2 separate regions of the Homo sapiens genome follow, and region 2 is linked to region 1. The links come from fine-mapping of genetic effects on gene expression. A gene starts in region 1. The other region holds a variant in brackets. All regions are shown on one strand. Distances are from middle to middle. Region 1 holds the start of H2AC25 (H2A clustered histone 25). Region 2 has its middle 140 kb from the start of RHOU.

Region 1 (2,877 bases):
TTTCTAAAGACATGCAGATTTGTGGTTAGCTGGTGTCCAGGAAGCCCTGACTTGAGTAGACCCAATTTTAGTAGGGTAAATATAAATTATATAATATTCCTGAATAATTTTACTGGCCTGTATTTATTATTACAATAAATACTTAATAATTGCTAATTACCCTGATCTGATAATAAATGTATTCAAAGTATCACTATGTACCCCATATAATATGCAATTGTTAGGTGTCAATTAACTAAATACTAGCACTTTGGGGATTAAAGAAAAAATAAAAACAAAGTAGGAATTATCCATATTTTGAGAAATAGATTAATGAAAACTGTACAGATAACAACAGAAGAATAACACTTTCTGAGCTCTGATTTTGTGGCAAACATTTTTTAAGGGATTATCGTGGATTAAATCAATGAACCTCTCTCCTCCAGGATTTAGGGGCTATTAACACAGCCATTTCAGTTAATTTGCCTGGAGGTCTCCGACGCTCTTAAACCCTCCATTTTATAAGGAAAAATGTAGTTACAAACCGTTATTTTCCTAAAGTCCACATGTATCATCATTCATCTGGTTCTAACAATACTCATTTTAAATTTGCTTAACTCGCAAATTTAGTTTTCCTTTTCAAAAACAGTGTACAAATTATTTTGTTCTCCAATTTTAGCAATCAATTTAAGGGGATCTTTGATTAATGTTTGACCAACCCGAATTAAACAAACTAAATTCCTTTAAATAATTATCCTATTCCAAATTAAGTCTTCTTAAAAGGTTTATACCTTTCAGCATCTACTAATCTGGTTCCTTTTAAGTACTGAAACTTTCCTCATGACCTTTAGAATTCCCAGCCAAATAAATTAAATCTTAACACTGGTGGAGCTCACATTGTTAAAACTTAGCAATTTAAATAGAAATCCATAGACTTACTCTTCAGAATTAAAGTGCAAACTACTTAGAGATCATAAATACTTTTAATATCAGATAAATCATTAAGAAATTGCATTCTGTACTTGATGACCACACGGGAACCTTGCTAGAGTCAAGAGAACTTGTCACTAGTAATTATGAAGACACCTTTACGGTGAGCGTTATTAAAACCCTACTAGAGGTTTTGGGTGGGACTCAAGAGCAAGGGGTGGCCACCTGTGGACGAGGGTTCCCTGTTGTTAACAGAACACGTTGCCCACCTCGCAAGTATGCAGCCCAATCAGTCCCCAGGGTCTCGGTTCCCGTTGCGCCCTTCCCCATGGCCACTGCGCTCATTCATGAGCCTAGGGTGATCAGGCCTCCGGCCTATAAAGAACTGCAGGATCAGTGCGGCTCTTTTCTCGAGATAGTAGGTGGCTCTGAAAAGAGCCTTTATGTCCATCAAAGGGGCCCCGGGGGCGGCGGGCGGCCTCACTTGCCCTTGGCCTTGTGGTGGCTCTCCGTCTTCTTGGGCAGCAGTACGGCCTGGATGTTGGGCAGGACGCCACCCTGCGCGATGGTCACGCGGCCCAGCAGCTTGTTGAGCTCCTCGTCGTTGCGGATGGCCAGCTGCAGGTGGCGCGGGATGATGCGCGTCTTCTTGTTGTCGCGCGCCGCGTTGCCGGCAAGCTCCAGGATCTCGGCAGTCAAGTACTCGAGCACCGCGGCCAGATAGACCGGGGCGCCGGCGCCCACGCGCTCCGAATAGTTGCCCTTGCGGAGCAACCGGTGCACGCGGCCCACGGGGAACTGCAGCCCCGCGCGCGACGAGCGCGACTTAGCCTTGGCGCGCGCCTTGCCACCCTGCTTACCACGACCGGACATTTCCGAGTCAAGGAAAAAAGACAACGGCAACCGAAAAGCGAGACTAAAAACAAGAGGGCAGTGAAGGCCAGCGAGCCCTTATGTATGGTACAGAGGTAGGCTAGACCGCGGCGTTCGATTGGATGGCTATGGTAGCCAATCAGAAAAAGAACCTGGCACTCCTAATTTGCGTATTCCTTTCCCAGCGATGACGTAGAACAACGTTTGATCCAATCAGAAGTGAGCAAATCCTGAGCCTTCATTTGAATACAAAACGTACAAATAGAGTTACTCCGAGCGCCGCGCGTTTCTGTTTGGAGAGACTCAGCCATCATGCCAGACCCGTCCAAATCGGCTCCTGCGCCCAAGAAGGGTTCTAAAAAGGCTGTCACCAAGGCACAGAAGAAGGACGGCAAGAAGCGCAAGCGCGGCCGCAAGGAGAGCTATTCTATCTACGTGTACAAGGTGCTGAAGCAGGTGCACCCCGACACCGGCATCTCGTCCAAGGCCATGGGCATCATGAACTCCTTCGTCAATGACATCTTCGAGCGCATCGCCAGCGAGGCCTCCCGCCTGGCACACTACAACAAGCGCTCCACCATCACGTCCCGCGAAGTGCAGACGGCCGTTCGCCTGCTGCTGCCCGGCGAGCTGGCCAAGCACGCCGTGTCCGAGGGCACCAAGGCTGTCACCAAGTACACCAGCTCCAAGTGAGGCGTTCCTCGGCGTCCTGAACCCAAAGGCTCTTTTCAGAGCCACCCACACGATCAAGAAAGGGTTTCGAACACGGTGAAGGGTTATGTAACCTAATGTGTCTCCATGCACCCTAGCGGTTGCCGGGTGCGGCCGAATCTGAGCCGTGTGTGTGTGTGTGTGTGTGTGTGTGTGCGCGCGCGCGCCGGCACAGAACGAGAAAAACTGCTCGTTACAGAAATCGGGGTAGAAACTGCTCAGGTGATGTAGCTCAGTAATGTTGGGAGGCGATCAAGGACCCCCTCTCCATCCCCTCCCTCCGCGCAGAGCTATTAACTCACGACGAGATTTCTTTTTTTTTTCTTTCTTTCTTTTTTTTTTTTTTTTTTTCTAGAAGAAGTCTCGCTCTGTCTCTAGGCTGGC
Region 2 (2,918 bases), 420 kb after region 1:
TTATTCTTAGTCATTTTCTTATACTCATGACTAGTATCTCTCCATCTAGGATTCAAGCTGCAGGTCTGAGAGGAATAAAAAAATAGCAAAAGAAATTATCAACAGAGTAAACAGACAACTTACAGAATAAGAGAAAATATTTGCAAACCATTCATCTGGCAAAGGCCTAATTTCTAGAACCTATAAAGAACTCAAACAAATTTACAAAAAAAAAAAAAAAGACAAATAACCTCATGAAAAAGTAGGCAAAGGACATGAACAGAACTTTTCAAAAGAAGACATACATATGGAAAAAACTCAATACCACTTGTCACTAGAAAAATGCAAATCAAAAACACAATGAGATACCATCTCACACCAGTCAGAATGGCTACTATTAACACGTCAAAAAATAAAAGATGCTGGCAAGGTTGCGGAGAAAAGGGAACACTTATACACTGTTGGTGGGAGTGTAAATTAGTTCAACCATGGTGAAAACCAGCATGGGAATTCCTCAAAGAGCTAAGAACAGAACTACCATTTAACCCAGCAATCCCATTCCTGGGTATATACTCAAAAGAATAGAAATCATTCTACCATGAAGACACATGCACGTGAATGTTCATTGCAGCACTGTTCACAATAGTAAAGACATGGAATCAACCTAAATGCCCATCAATGACAGATTGGATAAAGAAAATGTAGTACATAGACACATGGAAAACTATGCAGCCATAAAAAAGAATGAGATCATGTCTCTTGTGGGAACATGGATAGAGCTGGAGGCCATTATCCTTAGAAAAGCAATACAGGAACAGAAAACCAAAGACCTCATGTTCTCCCTTATAAGTGGAATCTACCTGAGGATGGAGAGTGGGAGGAGGGAGAGGATCGGAAAAAAAGACTATTGGGTACTAGTCTTAGTGCCTGGGTGATGAAATAATCTGTACAAAAAACCTCTGTGACATGAGTTGACCTTTATAACAAACCTGCACATGTATTCATGAACCTAAAATATAAGTTTAAATATTGTTTTTAATAAAACCTCTTTAATACCCACAATATTCAGCACTTGCTTCTGGTCACCAAATGTGTGTGGTTTTTCCCACACCAAGCAAGTCTCCAATTCTCTGTGGACTCCAGCTGGGTATCCTACCATTCAATTCAATGCTGACGCTGTCTGTACGTAGAATTAATGCAGACCCTATAGGTTATGGGCTCAGTTCTGCAAGGCTGCCCACCCCCATTAATTCAGACACCAGCCACAAGTCCAGTTGACAGCTGGGCTTCTGATGAACCAGCTATAATTTGGAAGATCCCCCTCACCTCCTTCCCAGGTTCAATAATTTGCTAGCACAGCTCATAGAAAACAATTTACTTACTAAATCACAAGTTTATTATAAGACTACAACTCAGGAACAGCCAGATAGATGAGCTGCATAGGGCAAGGTATTGGGGAGGGGTGCGGTGCTTTCATGCATTCTCCTGGGTGTGCTACCCTCCCGGTATGTGGATGTGTTTACCACCTGGAAGCTCTGTGAACCTCATTCTTTTGGG[T/A]CTTTAGGGAAATTTTATTGATTGCATCATTGGCCATGGTGATTAGCTCAATCTCCAGCCCCTCTCCCCTCCCCAAAAGGTAGGGGTGGGGATGAAATTGCATCTCTCTACACGGTTGGGTCTTCTGGCAACTGATCCCCCATCCTTTGGGCTTTTCAAAAATCACCTCGTGAACAGAAACAGTGTAATTGGAAGGGACTTGTTATGAATAACAAAAGGTGTTCCTTTCACCTTTATTGCTCTTATCTCGTAGGAAATTCCAAAAGTTTTAGAAGCTCTACACCAGGAACTGGGATGAAGACCAAATATATTTCTCATTATAAGTCACAATATCACAAGGCATTTTAAAACATATCGTATTAGTAGGGAATATGAGGTAGAGTAAGTCCAATAGGTTATGAGATGATCACCTTTGGATGGAGAGTTTACTACTCACAGTTCCAAGAGGAAGGATCATGCCATGAATGGGGTGGGGGCACCGAGGAGGATTGGTCGGGAGGCAGAAGGAGCGAGGGAAAAACAAGGGCAAGAATCTTTAGTGTGGTTTCCATGGTAAGTAATGGGTGATGCAGTGTAATTAGGCTTAAGAATGGCTAGTTTGAATAATTTCCGTGGACTCTGGGGCATAGGGGCTGGCCCTAATTGTCTGATACCTGGCTCCAAGGTGATTAAGACAGGTGGATATGATCCAGTGTCCCCAATAAAGAAGGCAGTGTGGGTGTGGGCTCTGGATTGGTTGGTTTGTTATGAAAGGTGTGCTCACAGACAAGTTGTTTATTATCCCTAAAAATTGAGTAACCTGACAGGGGCAGTCCCGCCATGGTCAGCAAGACCCCAGGTATCACGGCATCAGAATACAGAAAATAAGACATGGGTAATACAGCTGGTGACTAGGAAACACATTTTATGTTTTTATCTCTAGTGTCTGGTCTTAGCAGTCTACATAAATATTATGGAATAATTCTAAGTCAGTGTTTCTCAAAATGGGGCCTACAGAGCATTTATATCAAGCTCATTTGATGAGCTTGTTAAACACATAGATCCCTGGGCCCCTGCCATAGACATGACATCTCAGCACCTCTGGAGATGCTGGGTCCTGGAAATCGGTATATTGGCAAGTTCTCTGTGTGAAACCTGTGTCCACTCTGCCTTGAGAACTACTGTAGTGTCTTATCGATCTCTTCTCCATGCTGGCCCATCAGTCGGCTCTGAGTTCAGAGGAAGGCTTAGTTAAACTCCCAAGAACTTGAGCAACTTTCCCAAATGGAAAGCACCAGTCTCTCATCTCCACATCCCTGGCTCAGTTTGAGAGAATTACTTCTGGAACTGTCAGGGGCTTCCTAGAGCACTGAGACAGAAACAACTTTCCTGTCTCAATTAAG

What was found. PIP is the estimated chance that this variant, and not a neighbour inherited with it, causes the effect.
Region 2: its variant is the best candidate, but not a certain one, in a credible set for the expression of H2AC25 in whole blood (TOPMed, PIP 0.73).

Annotation. Positions count from the first base shown.
Region 1 is chr1:228,456,036-228,458,912 of GRCh38, forward strand. It overlaps H2AC25 (H2A clustered histone 25), which reads right to left and starts at 1,838. Exons shown (of 1, transcript NM_033445.3): 1 at 1,329-1,838. The coding sequence starts at 1,782. The coding sequence ends at 1,390. It overlaps H2BC26 (H2B clustered histone 26), which reads left to right and starts at 2,068. Exons shown (of 1, transcript NM_175055.3): 1 at 2,068-2,523. The coding sequence starts at 2,095. The coding sequence ends at 2,475. RefSeq lists enhancers at 1,961-2,547, 2,548-2,877.
Region 2 is chr1:228,878,623-228,881,540 of GRCh38, forward strand. No RefSeq gene overlaps it. Among named protein-coding and RNA genes, the nearest start is that of RHOU, 140 kb to the left of the region's middle. The variant T/A (reference allele first, on the strand shown) is at 1,537.